Regions from separate parts of the Homo sapiens genome. Here region 1 is linked to region 2. Evidence: fine-mapped expression QTL. A gene starts in region 2. The other region holds a variant in brackets. All regions are shown on one strand. Distances are from middle to middle.

The links. PIP is the estimated chance that this variant, and not a neighbour inherited with it, causes the effect.
Region 1: its variant is the best candidate, but not a certain one, in a credible set for the expression of COL25A1 in left ventricle (GTEx, PIP 0.83).

Annotation. Positions count from the first base shown.
Region 1 is chr4:108,967,147-108,972,530 of GRCh38, forward strand. The region is part of intron 8 of COL25A1 (collagen type XXV alpha 1 chain); the gene reads right to left. Among named protein-coding and RNA genes, the nearest start is that of ETNPPL, 210 kb to the left of the region's middle. RefSeq lists an enhancer at 3,076-3,245. The variant C/T (reference allele first, on the strand shown) is at 2,071.
Region 2 is chr4:109,299,235-109,304,618 of GRCh38, forward strand. It overlaps COL25A1 (collagen type XXV alpha 1 chain), which reads right to left and starts at 3,424. Exons shown (of 38, transcript NM_198721.4): 1 at 2,935-3,424; 2 at 2,489-2,841; 3 at 1,349-1,418. The coding sequence starts at 2,785. COL25A1-DT (COL25A1 divergent transcript) reads left to right here and starts at 3,801. Exons shown (of 3, transcript NR_160939.1): 1 at 3,801-4,093. RefSeq lists an enhancer at 3,496-4,278.

The DNA.
Region 1 (5,384 bases), 330 kb before region 2:
TCATCCATTAAATGAGAATAATAAAAGTAAGTATTTCATAGGGTTGTTGAAATAAGGTGTGACATCATAGAGTGATTGGCGTATTTTAGGAACTCAATTAAAGTATCCTTATTGTTATTATTTCAAACACAGATATTTCTGTAACCCCTATCATTTCACATTAATGTTGATGACTTTATAACAACTACCTTATTGATAGGGAAGCAGTCTTGTTCACTGAAAACAGAACAAACTAGAAGCTGAGAAAGCCAGGTTTAAATCCCATTTCTACCACTTACAATTTATGTCAACTTGGGCAAGTTACTTTACCCCATATTCCTCATATGAAATATGGGAAGAAAAATCAGGTATGGTTTGTTGAGAGCTTATTACAGATTTTTTCATATACTACTTTATTAATCCTGATCATAATCATAGATAGTGGTAGTTAGAATTTGATCCCTGTCCAGCCTGACTTCAGCCCATGTGGATAATCATTTTACTCAACTGCATCCACTTTTCCCGTTTTCCTCCCTGATAATCTATCTCTCTGCACTATAGTAAGGCTTAGAGATGATGTATGCAACTTACCTAGAAAAGTATCCAGCAAGTTGTAAGACTAAGCTATAGGCAATTATAATTATTATGTGAGGTCTTATTTCCTAGTCCAACTTTCTTATTCAACCTAGGAATCCCCGACAACTTCCTTTCAGCAGGTTGTGTAATCTCTACTTAAATACAAGGTAAAGTCATAGCCTCAAAACTTTGCAATACAAAGCTATGAGGATGAAATAAAGAGAATCAATTATCTCTTTACGCCCGGATACTCTATGCGTGGTGACCGACAGCACAGATAAAGCACCATCCCAACCCTAAGCCTAAAGGCCTAATGAAATGCAGTGTTTGGAAGAATGAATTAAAGATTAGTGGCAAATCTGCAATGACATCTCCCCAGGAATCAAGGCGGGAAGTACAATTCTTATGTCAGGATGCATTCATTTGTGGAAATCTAACACTCAGTGCCTCGTAGAATAAAACCAAATGATATTTGTGGTTATTATATTACACCTAAAACTGTAGGCCTGAAATTGGTTCAATGTATACTGAAAGAAAGTTAATGCCGAAAAGTTAGCCCACTTTCTCCTGCATTAAATCATATGCCATCAACTGTATTCAAAGACGGTCAACTTTCCTACCATTACCTTTTAACTTCTTGCAATCTGACTTCCACTCTCACTACTTAACAAAAGATATTCCTTTAATAGCCCATGACTCCAAAACAGCAAATCCAAAGGCTTTTGAAAGACCTCATCCCTGAGGCTCTCTTTTTATTCAGAATATTATATTGGCCACTCTTTTTTTTTTTTTTAAGTAGTTTTGTGTGTGGTGTTCACACAATGCAGTGTCCTGCTTCTACCTTCAAATGCTCTCCTTTTGCTGACACTCCTTCCTTCCTCATCCCACTCCGTAAGTGTGAGTATTTTTAAAGACTCTATTCTAGGGCAGTACTCTTCTTACTCTTTTGCCTACCATGTTTCTAATTCCAGGATTTCAATTCTCCCTCTGTGATAGTTCAGCTGTGTAACAGTTACCTCCAGTTATGGCACTGCCTCAGAATTCTAGTCTCATGTTTCTGTTTGTTACACTATTCCAATGAAATATCTCATCAAGATCACGAATTCAACATAATTAAAATCCATCTTCTCACTTATCCTCCCAACTTTCTTCTGACCTATTTTATCAAGCATCAAGCCAGAAACTTTAGCCCTATCTTTGTCTTCTTTTTCAACTTCATCCCCTACATCCAACTGGCTTCAAGACTGGTCTTGAATTTTCACCTCAGCGTCTTTCCATTTCACTTCCTGACTGCTTTTTAAAAAAACTTTAACCTGACTACAACTCCAGGGTCACAGGTCCTCAGTGTCAGCTGAATAGGGACACTTGTTCAAGTGTCCTCAAGACTCCTCCCTCACCAAATGCTCCTCTATCAGTGTCAGCCCTGATTTCCCTCTTTGTCTACTCAGGTGTTTGCTTGGCACTTGGGGTAAACCTTATTGATTGGATGACCTAAGTTCCCTTTCAGCCCTATTC[C/T]CCTTGTCCCTTCCAGCTTTTGGATGACTGTGTGACACAACCTAGCCAATGAGACATGACCAGAAGTCTACTAAGAAGTTCATAGGGAAAATGTTGCTTTCTTGATTCAGACTCTTTCCTCTCTATCCTTCCTGCTGATATACGCCTAGATGCAATGGTTGGACTTGAAGCAGGCTTCCTGCAATCATGAGACAAGGCCAAGAGATTCACAGACTTAGTAACATCATTGAATCAACAGTAACACCATTTAATTATATACATAACACTATCAACTGCCTTCTCCAAACTTCTTTTTATGTGAGAATAATAAACTCATATCCTAGCTTTCATGGTGAAATTGGAGCTTTTGTCCGTATTTTGGTGACCACTTTGGAATCTCTTTCTTGGTTCATCAACTTACCACCTCCCACTCCACCTCTCTCCCTAACCCCCGCTGAAATTCTACTCTGACACTGACCTTTCTACTCAGTATGTGTCCTTGCCTCCAATGATACCTGATGTTCCATGCTAAGTCAGCTCATCCGTTCTGCTTACCTCTCCACTGAGGACTGGACATTGTCTGTACAGCCTAGATTCTTATGACTTTGTCCTAAATGAGTGACATAGTTTCCTGGTCTACTTGGTCACCCTGCTTTCAGTCTCTTCCAATTGTATTCTATAGCAGATGCTACCACCAAATATATATATATAAAATAATTGTTTTGAGCCCAAGTCTCACTCTGTTGCCCAGGCTGGAGTGCAATCATGCTATCTTGGCTCACTGCAACCTCCACCTACCAGGTTCAAGTGATTCTCCTGCCTCAGCCTCCCAAGTAGCTGGGATTACAGGCACTCGCCACCACGCCTGGCTACTCTTTGTATTTTTAGTAGAGATGGGGTTTCACTATGATGGCCAGGCTGGTCTCGAACTCCTGATGTCAGGTGATCTGCCTACCTCAGCCTCCCAAAGTGCTGTGATTACAGTGGTGAGCCACTGCATCTGGCCTCTAAAATATTTTTATAAAGAACATTTGGTAATAAGCACAGATAGTCTCAAAATAAGATAAGCACAGATTACTCAAAATTCTCAATGGCTCTCTAATGCCTACCACGCTAGACATTCAAAATGCTCCATAATATAACTTCAATCCAAAATTTTCCATCTATATGACACAATATTTTACTTAACCTACTTATTGGCAAATGGAATATTATTTTTTAGGGTCCTTTTTAAAACTTACTTTTAATTGACAAATACAAATTATATATATACTGTTACATATGTTGTTTTGAAATATGTATACATCATGCGATGGCTATATCAGGCTAATTAACATTTGTATTACCTCACATCCTTATCTTTTTTGGTGAGAACACAATGTACTCTCAGCAATTTTCAAGAATACAATATATTGTTATTAACTGTGGTCACGTTGCTGTACAGTAGATCTGTTGAACTTATTCCTCTTATCTAACTGAAAGTTTGTATCCTTTGACCAACATCTCCTAAAACCCTCCCCACCAGCCATGGGTCACCACCATTAAATGCTCTACTTCTATGTATTCAACTTCTAAAAATTCCACATATAAGTGAGATCATGCAGTTATTTATCTTTCTGTACCTGCCTTATTTCACTTAACATAATGTCCTTCAGGTTCATCCATGCTGTTGGCAAATGAAAAGATTCCCTTCTTTTTTAAGGTTAAATAGTATTCCATTGTGTATACCACATTTTTAAAAATCACAAATGGAATATTATTGTTCCTTAACTAAATCCTGCCATTTTCTACTTGGATAATATTGTTTATACTATTTCCTCTTCCTGGAATATGTACTGTCTTGCTCTTCAGTGTATCCTCCTAAAGATTACCAATTTATCAAGTTCTAGCTCAAGTGTCACCTCTTCCACAGTTGACAGTGCTCATTTAAAATGAAAGAATTTTCACTTTTCTAGCACCTCTTGGTATATCTATTTGAGGGATATAACATATAACCACACAGTTTTCTTACTCAGGTACCCATGAAATTATCAGCTTCTTGAGGGCCATAATGATATAACAATATTTTATTCATACATTCAACAAATATTTATTGAATCTTCACTATTCTATGTGAAGGGGTATGAACAAGACAGAGAAGAACCTTGCTTTTATGGAATATAGGACCTAAGGAGGGAGGGGGGCATACTTTATAGATAATGAGCAAGTAAATACATAAACAAGATAGAATAATCTCTGGTTCAGATTGAGTAGTTAGAGAAGTTCTCTCAGAGGAGGTGATATTTGAGATGAAGTTTCAATGATAAGAAGAACCCAATCACAAGAAGACCAGAAGAGGGCAAATGGAAAGCTGTCGAGTTGGGTGAAAGTGCAGTGTGTCTGAAGAGGACATGGAGGACAGTGTGTGGCTGAGTGTTGTAGGTGGAGGCAAGACTAGTGTGAGATGAACTGGTGGGGATGGGCAAGAGCTAAGCACAGCAGGTTGGATTTCATTCTAAAGTTTTACACAGGAGTAACATGATCTAATTTACAATGTCAAGTGATCTCTCTGCCTGCTGTGTAGAAAATGGATTATATAAGGTTAAGAGTGGAAATAGAAAGATTAATTGGAAAGCCACTGAAGTAATCAAGAACATGAAAGTAAGTTGAATTTGGTGGTTAGTAGAAGAGAGAGATAAGTGGACACATTTATTGTGTCTATAGTATTAAGCACAGTATCTTAAAGATGGTAGCTGCTCAATATATACTGCTGAATATATGTCCAAGTACTTAAAAATAGTCTCACATTCTTAATTTCTATATGATCTTCAAGTTTTTCCAGCTTCGATTTACCTCTTATGGCTTAATTTATTCCCACTGGACACTTGGGGAGTCAAAGAGTTAAAACTTCCAAATATTCAAGAAAATGATATAGGTCTCATGATGGAAATTCACCTGACAAAGAGCTGACATGATGGAGTTTGGAGTTCACATTGTTATTTATGGGAAGAAATAAACTATTGGAAACAAATGGTAAAAAGCGTAATTCAAAATCTGCAACAGGATGAAAATGGACAGGGTATTGGAATACAAACTCTACATTTAAAAAAAAGAGAGCCTTTGGTCATCATCAGCAAGAATACCGTGCCTAAATAGAGAATGTGGGTAAAATTAATTTTCATTAAAATTGGAAACTTTTCCAGTTCTTGCTTTTGATGTTTTTTGAAATATAGAACCTTCATCTTACTATCTTGATATGATCAATTTCCTAATATGTAGCTAATACTATCTTACTAGATAGTAATGTTTACAAAATTCTAAGAGCACTGAATGAGACCTGCTTGGAATCTGAGAAA
Region 2 (5,384 bases):
AATCCCTACAGGCTGATGAGGTGGTTGAGTTAATTCCCACACTAGAAAAGTGCCTTCCTTGAATATCTGACTTCTGAGATATTTTCCAACATAAAACAACTAAGAATGAGACCTACACTGTCAAAGGTTAACTCTGTTTTTCTGGTACCTAACATATATGTCTTCTCGATCAAAAGGGCTTCATTTTAAAGATATAGCTCTATTATGTTCAAAAATTTAACAGAATATAAATAGTAAAATTTGTATAAGGTACAACCTGGAGTTGACATTTAAAATTTCTAAATGTGGTGCCTTGTGTAGCTCTGCCAAAACAAGTTATCATGAGGGGGAAACGTTTCAGAATATGAAAAAATACAAGAACTTGCCTTTTCATATATAAGCACCTAAGTATCATGTTGCTTAATACTAAAGAAATTTTAAGAGACTCACTTTCCATGAGTGATGATAAAAGAAACTATCATGTTCATAAATGTATTAACAATGTTTATCTGAAATAAACATCTCAACTCATGGGAGTTTTTCATGACTTACATGAGTTGAATCCACTAGATGTTTCCAATGGCCATATTCCAAGGGCTTCTAAATTGTTAGGTCTAAGATATCTACCAAGCCCTCAAAGGTCCATGAAGGAAGATTTAATGATTACCCAGGGGTCTTATTCATGATGTCCTTCTTCTCTGTCCTTCTACTAATATGCTGCCTTTAATATAGTTCCCTGAAGCTACACAGGAAAAAAAGGTAAAAATATAAGAGCCTCTTCTTCAAAAGTCACTGAGAATGCAAGAGTTTGTAATGGGAAGCTCAAGATAAAGAAATCATTTTCTTTCAGTCATCATCTCTAGCTATAGGATAGGAGATGGAATCTTTTTAATAGAACAGAAACAGCAGGAAAGGAAGTGAAGGTGGTTTACTAACATAAACGTATGCCAAAGGGAATAAACCAAAACAAAAAAAAAAAAAAACTCTGCACTAACACAATAAGAGCGAGCCAGGAATTCAGAATCTAACAGTTCTACAGTCCTTTTCACTGTAGACATTAAGACAATTTAATTGAAGAATATTTTTCAATCTGTGAATCTAAGAAGTTTGTCCTTGTACATCACCTTGCCTATATTTTCTTTGGTGATTATATCCTTTGCTTTCCCATAACAGGCCTTGGTATGCTGCTTAAAATAATATTTGGGGCTTTATTTGCCATCCTTTTGAATGAGACATGTTGATTTTATTAAAGCAAGTTGGGTCTGCATTCTTTCTTTACTATTATTACAGGTAGACTTGACAGACACAGGACCTTTGTTTTAAAATGCTCTGCTCTGGAGGAAACCTTGTTAAATAAGTTCCATTTTACCTGCTGGGCAGTTACATTCTGAAGGTGCTTCTCTTGCGATTCTTATTTTAGCCATATGTTCATAGGATTTCTGTAGGAAAAGAAGAGTTATTAATAATCATCAGTAGCACTGTAGAGGGATGGAGTCTTTAGGGACTCTGGCCATACGCCTGATTTACCGGCATTTCATAACCTGCATAACTAACATTTACATATGTACTTGGACTCTAGTCAAGAAAGTAACCATGCCTAAGTCCTAAAAAAAGAAAATGACCACTGATAGGGTATCAAGATTGCTGGACTTGTATAACATCTTTCTCCATTCTTCTCTACCACCACTCTCTCCCTCAGCTCAAGCATATGCAGTCAATGTAAAAACCTAGCACTAAAATGTTGCAGTATTAGGTAAGCTGTGGCTTACCAATAACAGCCAATATTTTATACATGAAGGTCAACTGCTTTATTTATCATGCTAGGCTGCAACTACTGCCAAATAGGCTCCCGGCTAGGGTAAGGTTCCAGAAAACCCCCTTACTCTAGTCTAAAGGTACCCTTACACATAACATAGATTCCTCTCAACTCTCAATTCCAAGGGCTCTGCATTCATAAATACCCCGGCACTGCATCCTTTACCAAAAATAAAGCTACTTTAAAAAAAAAAAGTTTAAACTTTTAATATGAAAAGATTCAACGTGTGAAATTATTGATTTTAAATTATATATGACATTATTTTACATTTAAGAGTGATTACCTTTTTTATATATTAATAACATCTATGACCCTAACCATCTTACAACATGTAAAAGATTTAACAGATGCTATCTCTGCAAGAAATATTCTCTCCACAATTGGGTTTGACTTAGGACAACTAAAAAGAGATAAAATGCCCTTTCCGAACCCTTTTAGACCTTCCTATGTGTTTAACACGCAAACATTAAGAGAGAGTGAGGGAAGATTAGAGATAGGGATGGGGACATCAAGGGATGTGCACATATAAATATATGCTACAGTGAGCATAGATCCTTGGCCAACACATGCACGCGCGCGCACACACACAGCCACACCAAGTATGGGTACAGTAAGGGTAGCGGCTAGTCATGCACACAGAGTCACGCTTGTACAAGATGTTACCCACGTGCAAAATACCCCAGCCTCTCACACCTGAGCCAGAAGTCGCTCCACTTTCTCTTGCACCATAGTCTTGAGGTGATCCAGGGTATCAGGCAGCAGATGAATGGAAGGGGCCCCTTTGGCGGATTCGAGAGCGGCGATCCTCGCCTGGAGGTCGTTGGTTTTCACACCCAGGTACAGGCAAGACACCACGGCCACCACTGACAGGAGGGCCGCCAGGACGGCACACGGGGGCATGGTCCGGGCACAATGCTGTTCGGCAGGGGTCGGGTCCTCGGATCTGGGCTCCCGGCCCCCTCCTTTCCCTGCGTGCTTCTTCAGCAGCATCGTGGCGGGGTCGGCCGTCTCGGCTTCGCTTCCCACCCTCTACACCTCAAATAATCCTAAAAGGAAAGAAAAAGGTCGATTCCTCCAAAGTTCAGTCCCTGTGGCTGCACAACTAGTTGGTGGAGTCAAGCCCACGAGCGGATACGGACCCCTGCCTTGCTCAGCGTCCAGACCCGCAGGCGTGCACCATCCCCGCTTTCTTCTCTCCTCCCAGCTGGAAGTGAAAAGCACCCTCCGTCCGGGGACTGGGTGGCGGTGGGGTAAAAAGCAAGACGAAACCCACCCAGACAGCTCTTCCGACTCCCAGAGGACCGACACCTCTTTCGAGGGCCCCAACAGTGGCCGCTCAGGGTCCGAGGGCAACGGCCGAGGCGCCACGCGGGGCCGCGGCTCGCCCTGGCCACGGAGGACCGGACCTGTTGCGCCTCTGTGAGTTTGCCTTATTTCTACCTACTCGGTGTCTTTCGGCACGCCGACCTGTTTCCCACCTGCATTCAGTTCAAGGCAAAAAGGCTGTGAGAGCACGCTACAGCGCAGCGCGAAAGGGGCGACTAAGGTGGAGAAGAGAGAGGAAAACGAAATAAACCCAAGGAACCAATGCTACTCGCGAAGCCGAAGTCGCGGCTGCCCGAAGGATCTCCGCAGCCCCGCGTGCGCGATCCTTAAATACCCTTCGCGATGCTCGCGTGAGTGTGTGTGTGAGTGTGTGAGTGCGCGCGCGCTCCGAGCACGACGTCCCTCCCCCGACCCCCTCCCGGCGCCCGGCGTCCGGCCTGCCGCTCCCGCTGCTGCGCGCCCCCCTTCCGAAGGCAAAGCAGGAGCCCGCCTTATTATCATAATGTATTCACCTTGGCCCAGCCCGCGGGCCGGCCCGGGGAACCCCCAAGGGAGGCGGGAAGCTTGGGTGGGAGCGGGGCAGGAGGTCTGTTATTAGCATAATGTATGCAAATAGCTGGAGCGGCCACCGTGATTGGAGAGGAGCCTGGCGACCCCTCCCCCTGCGCGGAGTAACTTCAGCATCTCCGAGGGCCACCTCTCTGGCCTGGGCCGGGGCCGAAGCGGGGTCGGCTGCGCAAGAGGCGGCAACTTTGGCTTATACTGACTCAGCCCAGCGCCCCCTTTTTATCCCACATAAAAATGGAGAAATGGCCTCCGGGAGGAAGATGTGAAGCGGCACGCTCTATCTCTACTGATCTTCACTCAAAAGCAGCCGCAGGAGCTGTTGCTATCTCGCTGTGGTGCAGCGCTTTTCCCTCCTCCCTCACTTTCCCACATGCCCAGAGGCAAAGTGTCTGGCCGACGTCTGAGGTACATTTCCCCACTTCCCTTCTCTTCCCACTGCAGCCCTCAGATTGTCCAACGAGGGGAAGTTTTCCTTCCCCTCCCCCAGTTTCCTTGTCTTGACGGCACTGAGTCTCCTCCCAGCTCTGTATTCCTAGTCTGTACTAGGGTGCTAATGTGTTTTCCTGATTCCCTGTTTTGCGGGATTGGAAAAGGGAGTGTTGAGGTATACACATTTCTCAGGATTTAGGAAAGGAATGAAGAATGAAGTCAGTTTTTCCTTTTACCTGACTCTTAATGCTGTTCTCTCTGGATCAAATTACAAGGTCTCTAATGGGATTTTGGAAAGTTGGTAACAAGTAGCATTTGACATCTAATTGACTTTGGGGAAAACAGAAATCCCACCTCTTATTCCAAAGAGTTCCTTCTTATCTCCCTATAAAAAAAAAAACCATATATTTTTCCTATTCTCCTTAATTAAGCTAACCTGAAGTCGTTGCTTACTATTGTAAACAGTCAACAAAATACTTCACTAAGTTGGTCTTTCACATGTGTAAACGGATATTGCTAGGTGTGAAGCAAGGTAAGGAAATAACAGCATTAGAGGAAGAAAGAGACTAACATTGGAGGAAAACTCAATGAATTTGGCTATAAAGTCAAAACCATAATTCATTTGTATTACACAGTGGTTCTCAAAGGATGGTCCTAGACCAATAACATCAGCATCACCTGAGAACTTGGACATTAAAATTCTAGGTTCCTACCACAGATCTGAATCAGAAACTGCTACTACCACTACTGAAATAATAATTTTAAAAAAAACAGCAATCTGTGTTTTAACAAGCCCTCCAAATGATTTTGATATATACTACTAAAGTTTGAGAACCACTGGTATAATACTTTCCAAAATATTTTCAAATACTTTTTGTATTTGAACCTCATAACCCTGCGATGTGAGGATTTACTGTTCCTCTTTTAAATATAAACAACGTTTTTAAATAAATTTTAAAACAGATAAATTTCAAGTCACATTTAATTGTGATTAAACATGTTTCCAATAACAGGACCCAAATAATGGGTACAAATATTTTAATGTACAAACTCTTTCTGTAACCTCTAGCTGTTCCTTAGTCTCATTTGCAGGCTTTTCCTCTTTCATTTCTCTGAAAGTTGGTGCTCCTTGGGTCTCTGTCTATTCCATCTTCTCTGTATACTCTCTCCAGTAGAGTTCCCATTACACTGATGAGTCATAAATTCATATCAAAAGCCCAAACCTCTCTCCTGAACCTCAGATCCATATAGCCAGTTGCCTCTTTGT